2 separate regions of the Homo sapiens genome follow, and region 2 is linked to region 1. Evidence: fine-mapped expression QTL. A gene starts in region 1. The other region holds a variant in brackets. All regions are shown on one strand. Distances are from middle to middle.

Region 1 (5,343 bases):
AGAATCACTTTCCTACCATCATAATTACTCCTGCAAGTACTGTTCATTCCCTTGCTTTTCTGTGCCTCCTTCATACCTACCTGGCAATACTCCAAGCCAGGATGAAGCCAAATATCTACCCAACTTTCTGCTTCTAAACAGAATTTCGCAGCCAGGCTTTTTTTAAACTGAAATTTGTGATCATAAACTTCAAATTGGCCTTTAATTCAAGGTTTGAGGTAAGCTCTATTTCCCATTCTCCAAGATGACTTGGTATACCTTCTATTCCCCACTTCATTTTCATGAGATGATCTTGTCTCAAAGAGACATCATCGGATGGAAATTCCCTCAGTAAATCTACAAACAAATGTACATCTACTCCATCTTCTTCTTCCCTCCTGGCATAACCAAAAGTGTTGCTATCCCGGCCAGACGCGGTGGTTCAGGCTTGTAATCCCAGCACTTTGGGAGGCCAATGCAGGTGAATCACTTGAGGTCAGGAGTTCGAGACCAGCCTGGCCAACATGGTGAAATCCTGTCTCTACTAAAAATACAAAAATTAGCAGGGTGTGATGGTGCACGCCTGTAGTCCCAGCTACTCAGGAGGCTGACACAGGGGAATTGTTTGAACCTGGGAGGTGGAGGTTGCAGTGAGCCAAGATTGAGCCACTGCACTCCAGCCTGGGTGACAGAGAGAGACTCCATCTCAAAAAAAAAAAAAAAAAAAAAAGTGTTCCTATCCCTAGGAAGGGCCCTCGATACCCTGTTCCTAGACCCTCCTGATTTCTCAAGGACTTGGTTCCTTGCACTATCCCCCTTTGAATCATCAGTTTCCTTCCCATCAACACAGAAACAAGATCTTGTGACTCATATCTTAGTCCTACTGCTTTGATTCCCCATTTCCCCCTAGATACTGCTCCATTTTTCTTGGAAAGATGGAAAACCTTTTATGGAAAAATGTGTCAAAAGAATGATTTACCCTAGCTGTCCTCCAGTTTTTTAACCCCTAAAAGAGAATCTGTTATAAAGACATGGATAACTCATGGGCAGAAATATAGCTCTTCAAGGTAGTGATATAGTCGAGGTGGTGAGTGGCAGGCCACTTGGAATCCACAGAGTCCTCACTCTCTGCCTTCTCCTCCACATTTCTTGTGTCTCATTCTTTTTTTCAGTAATGCAGACTCCCCTACACTCCTCGAACGGAATTTAGGTCTATTCAACCTTGGCCAGAAGAGCAGAGCTGGATAATGGAAAACGCTTACTTGAAGCCTGTGTAACATGGTGAAACCCTGTCTCTACTAAAAATACAAAAAAATTAGTTGACCATTGTCTTAATCTCTATGTGCTTCTGTAACAAAATCCCTGGAACTAGGTAATTTATAAATTATGGATACTTATTTCTTATGATTCTGGAGGCTGGGAAATCCAAGATCAAAGCACCAGCAGTGTCTGTGTCTGGTGAGAGCCTGGTCTCTGCTTCCAGGAGGGCACCTTTTTGCTCTGTCCTCACATGGCAGAAGGCAGAGGGGCAGAAGGGCAAAGGGCCTAGCTAGTTCCCCCAGCACGCATGTGGTCACTAACACCTTCATGAAGGCACATCCCTGCCCTGGCCCCCTAAAAGTCTTTTTTTTTTTTGAGACATGGTCTTGCTCTGTCACCCAGGCTGGAGTGCAGAAGCGCCATCCCGGCTTACTGCAGCCTCGACCACCCAGGCTCAAGTGATCCTTCCACCTCACAAAATTATTTTATTTTTATAGAGATGGGATCTCTCACTGTGTTGCACAGGCTGGTCTCAAACTACTGGGCTCAAGTGATCCTCCTGTCTCAGCCTCCCAAAGAGTTGGGATTAGAGGTGTGAGCCACCGCACTTGGACAAAACTTCTTATAAGGACACTAATCCCACCATAAGGGCCTGACCCTCACGACTTCATCTAAACCTCCCAAACGCCCCATCTCCTGGGAGGGGAACACCGGTCAGTCCATTGCACCTCCTTTACCTGGCAGACCCTACCTCTTGCTTTAATTCTGCTGAGGCATCACTTCCGCAGGAAATCCTTGACTAAGCACCTCATATCCCCCACCGCTTCACTCTAAGGTGACAACGCGGGCTTTAATTCATGTTTTGTGCTTACCTCTTTCATAGCCCTTGTCTCTGTTTTGTAATTATCTGTTTCTGGTCTGATTCCCTAATAGATCGTGAGTTCCTTGAAGGCAAGGCCTTTGTCTCATTCAACTGTGTTCTCCCAAACCCTAGAACACGGCCTGACCCATGGTAGGCAACCAATGATACTTTTTGAGTGAATAGAACAAAAAGTATTGCCCTCCTTAATAAAAGAAAACCTAGAACTTCAAGGCTGACATTGGCCTTCGCGTAGCCCAATCAGAGCGCTTTGCCCTTGCTGCAGAGGACTAAAGGACGCCACGCCGCCGTTGCCTAGTAACTGTCGCCGGAGGGAGGCGGGGAGGGTCGCAAGCGCGCCGCCGGCGTCCAATCAGGACCTGCGTTCCGGGAGCCAATAGCAGCTTCGAGAGCCGCTCACCTAGAGCGGACTACACTTCCCGTCACGCCCCGCCGCCTGGGGCTGGGCAGTGACCGTAAAGCTGTTCGCTCGGTGCGACGCAAGTCTCAGCTCAGCGCGCTTATCCTGGGTCCACCGGCGCTACCGCCCCCCGACGTGAGAGAGCGAAGTTCTTGGGCCGCGCTCCCTCCCTACCTGGGTGCCCTCCCCCTCCGGGAGCCTGGGTCCCCGGGGCGGTCGCGGCGGCTGCATCCTCAGGCCAGGCCGCGGGGGGAGGGGGCGGCACGGGCCTCCGAAAGCGGGGCCATGGAGCCCAGAGAGTCGGGGAAGGTAGGACTGGAAGGCCCGGGGGCCGCCCGCTCCCTCCCGAGGATCCCCGAGCCGGGCTCGGGCGAGGCGGGGCGGCTCGGGCGGAGGCCCCGCAGATGAGCCAGGCTTGCAGGGAAGGACTCGCCGGCCCGCCCTCTCTTCCCGCACTTCGGCGCCCGACCCCGGGAGGGTGGCGGAGAGGAGCGGACGCTTCCGTTCGGTGTCCGCGCATCCTCCCCGAGCTGCCGAGCGTCCGCTGGGTCGATGCTGGGTTGGGTGACCCCCGAGTGGAGCGATGCGAAGGTGCTTCCTGTTTTCCCCACCACCTTCGGCGTTTTGAAGAGGCCCTGCTAAGGCTTGGAGTCTGGATCGGACGCCAGTGGGAGCTGCAGGGTGGGACGCTTGAGGGCTTGACCCTGCCTAGATCCTCCTTACCAAGAAAGGGCTGAAAAGAGAGGGCATCTGGCATGCTTTTTGCCACTTCTGTTTCTAGGTTATGTACTTCATGGAATATCTGGGCATTGCTTAGAAACCTGTGTCATAAATTGGCTTTGGGCAAGAGGCTTTGAGTTGGAAGAAAAGGTGGAAAGAAAGTGCTTGGGGGCGGAGTTCAGGGATTTGACGGGATTGCCAGCGCTTCCAGGCCGTGTCATCCAAGACCAGTGTGGTTGTGGGCACATTAGCTTGGAGACAGTGGCAGCCTCTTGGGACTAACATCTTTCTGGATGTTGTTTGCTGCCAGTTCTTGAGTATTGTTTCTTATTTGGCACAGAGGAGAATTCTCTCAACAAACGTTTTCGACTGTTTATTGAGTCCCTTAAAAAACTGTCCATTTAATAAACATTTGTGATCTGTGATTTGCATTGAACGAGATGCTGGAAGTATGAGGATAAATAGGAAATGATCACCTTTCTCAAGGAGCTCTCCTGCAGTTTTCACTTCAATAACTTGGACACGCCTGAAAGGGTTGTCCCACACGAAAAGAGAGAAAAGGATAATGAGGTTCTTTTGATGCTGTAGTTTTTCCTGGGAAGACTAGGAAGGACTCTGAATTTCAAAAGAGGTGATTTCTCGCATGAGCATCTCTTCCATCCTCCCTCCCTCCACAAGCTACAGTGATGCATGTAGCAGACACGGCACCTACAGAGTACGTGGTCCAAGCCAATAAAGCTCAACAAAACCCAAGCAAAGATGGAGCTTATGGCCCTTACCCTTTGGAAATATCCCCAGATTGGTTTAGATTGAACCTGAATTTGAATAAAGAGAAGCAAAATGTAGGGGGAAGAAGGATTATAAAATATTGGGATTGATATTGGTATCAGTGATTTGAAGTTGATTTCCAAGCTATTCTGTTCAGTCAGAGGCTTTCTTAGCCTTTAACGGGAGAAGAGAAATACGGTCATGCGCTGTATAACAAGGTTTCCATCAACACCGCTCTCACGTACAATCCCCTGAGACTACAGTGGGGCTGAGAAATTCCTATCACCTGGTGACATCTTCATGATCCTGACCCTGTGTAGGCTTAGGCTAATGTGTGTGTTTGTGTCTTAGGTTTTAAGAAAGCTTAAAAAGTAAAAAAAAAAAAAAAAAAAAAAAAAAAAAAAATTTAAAAATACAAAACCTCATAGAATTAGAATATAAAGAAAAATACTTTTTGTTGATGGAATGGTTTGCTGGAAAATAAAAATACAAAAATATTTAAAGAAAAATATTGTACAGGTGTACAATGTGTGTTAAGCTAAGTGTTATTACAAAAGAGTCAAAAGTTTAAAAAATTAAGTTTATAAAGTAAAACAGTTACAATAAGCTAGGGTTAATTTATTATTGAAGAAAGAAAAATTTTTGATAAATTCGGCGTAGCCTTAGTGTGCAGTGTTTATAAAGTCTACAGAAGTGTTCAGTCATGTCCTAGGCCTTCACATTCTCTCACCACTCACTCACTCACTCACTCACTCACCCAGAGCAACTTCCAGTCCTGCAAGCTCCATTCATGGTAAGTGCCCAATACAGATGGACCTTTTTTTTTTTTTTGTCTTTTCTACCATATTCTTACTGTACCTTTTCTATGTTTAGATACGCAAATACTTACCATGTGTTACAGTGGCCTACAGTTTTCAGTACAGTAACATACTGTGTAGGATTGTAGCCTAGGGGGCAAAAGGCTATATACCATATAGCCTAGATATGTAGTAGGCTGTACCATGTAGTTTTGTATAAGTACACTCTGTGATGTTCCACAATGACAGAACTGCCTAAGGACACATTTCCTAGAACTTATCCCTGTTGTTAAGCAACACATGACTGTACAAACATTTTGGGAGGTAGAGGAGAAACCTGATTCCGTGTCCTGTCCAACCACTAAGTGAAACCTCAGAGACTGGAAATTTCACCCTTGATTATAATCTTGATTTTAGGGTATCTCAGAAAGGTGCTCACCCTTCCCAAAGATAGTTGTTTTCTAATATGGGAAATGAGAACTTCATACAAGAATGAAATAAAGTAATTACAAAACCAACTGTCAGTGTAAGATGTGTTG
Region 2 (5,372 bases), 32 kb after region 1:
TTTACTGAACTTAGAAAGGTAGACTTTCAAGGAAAAAACATCGATTTCCACCAATAGTAAAAGCTACTGCATCAGACCTGTCACTCAACAGCGCTCCTTGAGGCCTAGCTCCTGAGATCCCTCTGGCGAGCCCTTGCGGCTCCACATCCTCGGGACGGCACGCTCCCACGGGACTGGAGCAAAGGTTTCAGAGACTCGGGATACAGCCAGATCTCTTCGGTGAGGAGACTCAGTCTTACTCGAGTGTATGTGATTTTTAAAAAAGACATTGAAACAACTATGGAAACAGAGGCAAAGGCAGCAAGGCTTTGGGTTTGCGACTGGGAATCCGTGCGGCCTCCCTTTGGTGAAGACCTGACCCCGTGGTGGGGGTGAACAGGGTTTCCTTGACCCCGTCCCAGGGTTCCCTTCAGGACAGATGGATTTCACTAGGGGAAGCGTGATGCTGGTAGCCTCCACTCTCAGGCTGGGCAGGGTAGGCTCCCAGGGAGGCAGCTCCCAGCGCAGCCTCTTCCATCACTCCGGCTGGAGCTAGAAGGAGAGAAGTGAGCTGAGGCTCTAGAAAGTGCTGCACTCCTGCCTTTCTTTTTCCCAAGGGTGCTCTTGACATCTGGAGTGCAGTCAGCAGGCCTTTCCGAGTGGGCTGGCTGCCTCAGATGCCTCAGTCCCTGTTGCTGGGGATGCTTCGGTGGGGCCTCCTCACTGTGGGCCTTCTCTTGGGTCAGTGTGATCCTCGTGTCCCTTCCCTGTGCCAGCGACACTCGTGGGCTTCACGTGGCTGGCCCCTGCTCCCAGGGCTCTTGAGATGCTGCCTCTGACTGCAGCTCCTGCCACACTGGCACCTGTGTGGCCGCTGCTCCCCTCTGCACCTGGGAATAGCTGCCCAGAGACTTCCTGTTTTGAACCTTTTGCCTTGCTCAGGCAGCCAGCAAGGGCCCTGGCACTCACAACAGAAGGGCCCTGCAGTGCTGCGGCTCTGCTGGCGGGCCAGGACAAGCTGTGGGGCGCAGACACACTGGGCACACTCCAGACAGGCACAGGGCCTCTGGGCAGTGAGTTTGCAAGTGTTTTGTGGTCCTGGATCATGCACAGGCTTCTTGGCAGCCAGGAGAGGCTGTCTCTGCATTTAGTGTGCACACCTGAAAGAGCGGCCCCTCACCCACTAGGCAGTGTCCTCCCACATCCCCAGGAGGGTCTTCCTGTGCCATCTGAGGTCCACTTAGTGGAAAGCCTTTGCCACACCAGGACACTTTCAGGACTACTCCCCCACGTGGCTGTGCTCATGGTGGCCAGGGCTATATGGCTCTTGAAGCTCTCCACACACTTGGCACAGATGGATGGCTTTTCCAGTGGAATCAAAAGGACTCAGGCATTCTGAGGCCAGTCTGGCCTTGGGGTTTTTCAGCTTCCCAGAAGCCTGCAGAATCGTTCTGGGGGGTTCCCAGTTGCCTCCAGAATCATCTTCAGTCTTGTTTCTGACTGTGTTACCAAATACTGTGGAAGAAACTCAGATGTTAGCCTAGTGATGGGGACACACTTCTTTTGTTCAGTGTGACCTGCTCAGCCTCTAGCCCCCAGCCCCAGCGAGATGACGGATAAGGCAGCGTCCTGTGGATGCCAGAGCCGGGGCCAAGTGTGGGTCAGCATCCCAGCTCAGAGGAGCGGCCCAGTTTGTCTGAGAACACTGAAGTCCCAGAGCCCTGGGGAGGGGCTTCTGACCAGCACTCCTCCTGCTCTCATTCCAACACACACAAAGGGAATGTCCTGGTCCAGGGAGCCAGGGCTCTCTTGCTGCCATGTGAATAATTCCCTGTAGCAGCCACTGCTAGACAGCAAGCTTGGGAAGCCTTCTTATGCAGAAATCAAAGTCATTTTTATAAAAAGTGTCACAGAGTCCCTTATGAAGACAGCTGGACAGAGCAGGAGCCGACCCTTCCCTGACTGCCCAGTTCAGTGAGCCCGGTAAAATATCTGCCGTCAGCAGCCTGCCATGAGGTGCAGTGAGGACCTTCTACTTCATCCCTCCAAGCTGAGTCGTATCATAAAATGCATACTTTATGTTCCTTCTGCCTGTAGAGAATCAGAAAGCACATGATGGAGGTTTCAGAAAAGGGCTTGTGAGATCGAGCATGTCAGAGCTGAAGATCTGTGTCTGTGAGACATGTCCTCCTGAAAGAGCACACATGAGCTGACATAGCCACGGCGCCGGATTGCCCTCACCCTGATTGTCCCATCAGTGTAGCTTGTCTCAAGAGGTTTACACTGTGGCTGTGTTTCTCACAGGTTACCCAAACTCCTATCATAAAGGCAGGAAACAGAAGTAAAAAACCTGAATCCAAACCACAGGAAGTGCTGCGGAGATACTGATTC[G/A]TGGGTTGATCAGAGCCCAGGAGGCACTAAAGGCTCAATGAACATGGTGATCTTTGTGCAAGAGATGTTCCATCAAGGCTTACCTGGCTGGGTGGTAGCTTTTTGGCCTCTGTTGGGGGCTGGGAATCCTTCACCCAAAGCTCATGTTCCCTTTCAAGTCTACAAGTGATCTCTGGTTTGGCAGCAGCATGCACTGTAGGGAGAAAGACAGCCCAGTGCCCCTCAACCCACACTGAGCGCACATAGACCCGTGTCAGTCCTGAAGCCTGACTTGCACCACCCATTTAATGCCCTGGGCTCACCCTATCAATTTGGGACAGCGGGGGTAGGTTGTAAACCTAAGAGAGCTCCAGAAGTAGGCAGGGCCTGGCATACAGGTAGGGATGTTTATTTCAGGGCAACTTCAGGAGTGCCAAGGGCTGATAAAACAGTGCAATTGTCATAATATGTTTTCCCACTGCCAGGGCCCTTGAAGGAGAAACAGGCTCAACTAGTCACAGAGACAACCATGCTCTGGGTCTAGTTCTCCCTGACCCCACAGGCCAGGAGTGCCCCTATTAGATGGCAAGCAAGCAAGGGGCCAAGGTCCTCACCCAGCAAGACTCCCAGCTCCTAATTCCTTCTTATCACATCCTGGTATAATTCCTTCTACTCATGGCCACCAGAACAATGGGTGGAAGGTAGGTGGTTACATCATTAAATGTCACAGGCCTTATTTGCAAAGACAGAGACATCTGGAGCTGTTGTTCTCACCTCCGACACGTGCCCCGTCTGCAGAGAGCATTAGGATGCATCTGTGGCTCTGAGGTGTGATTTCCTAGGGCCTTCAAGTGTCCTGGGGCTCCTGTTCATTTGCACTGGGGGACACTCAGGGAAGTTTTAAAGAGCCTCTTTCAGTGGCTCCTTCTCCTTCTACCCTTTCTAGGAATTCATCAGCCCCATGAAAAGATGAACGATAGAGATGTCACCAACATCAGGACCCCACTCCCTGGGAGATGTCATGGAAACTTGTCAATCACACCCAAAGCACTCACTGAGGAGCCATGGCAGAGCAGTCGGTGGCGCCAATACCAACCAGAAGCCGCCAGGGCAGAGGGGAACCGTGAAGCCAGTGGAATGCACAGCTCCACCTCAGGGGACCGGGGTAGGCGGGGCTGTGTCTGGTAACATGCCCTTTGCCTCACATTAGTGCCTCTGAAAATAGTGTCCTCAGCCTGGGCACAAACCCTAGGGGTGAGCTGGGAGTGTGGAGGAGACGCTGGATTAGGGAGAAGTCTCGGCCATGTGTTCTGGCTCTTTTACTGATGAGCTGTGTGGGCCTAGGCAAGTTACTTCACTTCTCTGGGCCTCAGTTTTATCACCTGTAAAGTGATAGGATTGCCTTAGCCTCTAAGATCCCTTTCAGCTAAAAACAAAGTTCTAGAAAATAAATATGTGGTACTGTGGAACTCTGGGGAGCTGTTTGATCAGGTGAACAGTTTACCCATGGAAATGGGGCTCCAGCACAAAGCTGCTCACATCTTCCAGTCACGCTCCAGGGAACAGCCAGGGCTTGTGGGCCCAGATGAGGCTTTAGTGGTTGGAGAAGGAGCCAGTTCCTGGTTTTAATCCCTTCATGGACCTCAGACCATCACAAAGCTGCCAAACAAATGACACAGGCAATCACATGCAAATTAGGACAGAAATGAAACATCAAAGACATTAAAGGAAAAGAGTAAGAGCTGCAGGCTGCTAATATGAGTGGCTGCTCAGACTCAGCAATGTTTTTGGTTCTGGCCAAAGCCAAGACAAAGGAGCAGAGGCAAAGAAGGAAATACATTTCACTTTACAGCTGTCATTTTCTACAGAGGATTTTTTTTTTTCCAGAACAAAATTCAAAAAGTCCGTCTTTTTTGAGCTATAGAACTTTCGTGGTGATTTTTTTTTTTTTTTTTTTTTTGAGACGGAGTCTCACTCTGTCCCCCAGGCTGGAGTGCAGGGGCACAATCTCGGCTCACTGCAAGTGCAAGCTCTGCCTCCCGGGTTCACGCCATTCTCCTTTCAGCCTCCAAAGTAGCTAGGACTACAGGTGCCCGCCACCATGCCCAGCTAATTTTTTTATATTTTTAGTAGAGACGGGGTTTCACCGTGTTAGCCAGGATGGTCTCGATCTCCTGACCTCGTGATCCGCCCGCCTCTGCCTCCCATAGTGCTGGGATTACAGGTGTGAGCCACTGCGCTCAGCCCTCGTGGTGATTTTTTGAAGGCCTGTATGGACATACTCTTAACTCTATCTCCTGGATGCCAAGTGCACCCTTATCCTAGGCCAGTGTTCTCAACAATGTACACACTCTGGATGAGAAAAATAACCATTGTTTACAATCCAGCTAAAATCTCACCTCCTCCAGGGAGTCTTCCTGGATTTCTCCACCCTCTGAATTCTCATAATGGGCATTTGGCTACTTTGATCACAGGGCTCTTAGAACTGCGCTGTCCAGCATTATGATTTTACCAGAATATATCACTCCTCAACTACTTTAGAAACCCCTCGAAGGCTAGGATGGTATTTTATACCTAACAGTTTGGTGTCATCCCACGCCCACCTCCAACTTACATGAATGTTGGAAGGATGGATAGGGAGGTTTCAACTAGAGAACGGAGAAGGGCGGATGTAACTGGTTCTTGATTTCAGAAAACAGCCAGGAGCACACATGGCTGACGGGGTCAGTGCAAGGACAGGCACATTTCCCTTCTGCATCACGTGGGGACTGCGCCTCCCTATGTCATGAAGCCAGGGAATATGTGTGGCCGGCCGCTTGGGGTAGCACTTGTTGCTAGAGATACCGCCTGGAGGCCACTGATCTGTAAAAGGGATCTCTACAGAAGATAGGGATTTTTGATCGCCAGAGAAGAAGGGATATGTGAGATCCAAACGCCGAAGGAGGAAAGCAGGCTCCGTGGTCTCTTCCAGCCCTGATGGAAGAAACTACCGAGCCTTATTATACTAGGTGCTTTCCACATGC

Evidence for each region. PIP is the estimated chance that this variant, and not a neighbour inherited with it, causes the effect. A credible set is the group of variants that fine-mapping cannot tell apart.
Region 2: its variant is the best candidate, but not a certain one, in a credible set for the expression of ZNF862 in whole blood (TOPMed, PIP 0.58).

The regions. Positions count from the first base shown.
Region 1 is chr7:149,835,808-149,841,150 of GRCh38, forward strand. It overlaps ZNF862 (zinc finger protein 862), which reads left to right and starts at 2,568. Exons shown (of 8, transcript NM_001099220.3): 1 at 2,568-2,828. The coding sequence starts at 2,805. RefSeq lists a silencer at 2,644-3,103.
Region 2 is chr7:149,867,789-149,873,160 of GRCh38, forward strand. ATP6V0E2-AS1 (ATP6V0E2 antisense RNA 1) reads right to left here. Exons shown (of 4, transcript NR_027040.1): 2 at 3,854-4,008; 3 at 2,454-2,563; 4 at 1-2,070. It also overlaps a transcript of ATP6V0E2 not described here. Among named protein-coding and RNA genes, the nearest start is that of ATP6V0E2-AS1, 3.4 kb to the right of the region's middle. The variant G/A (reference allele first, on the strand shown) is at 2,371.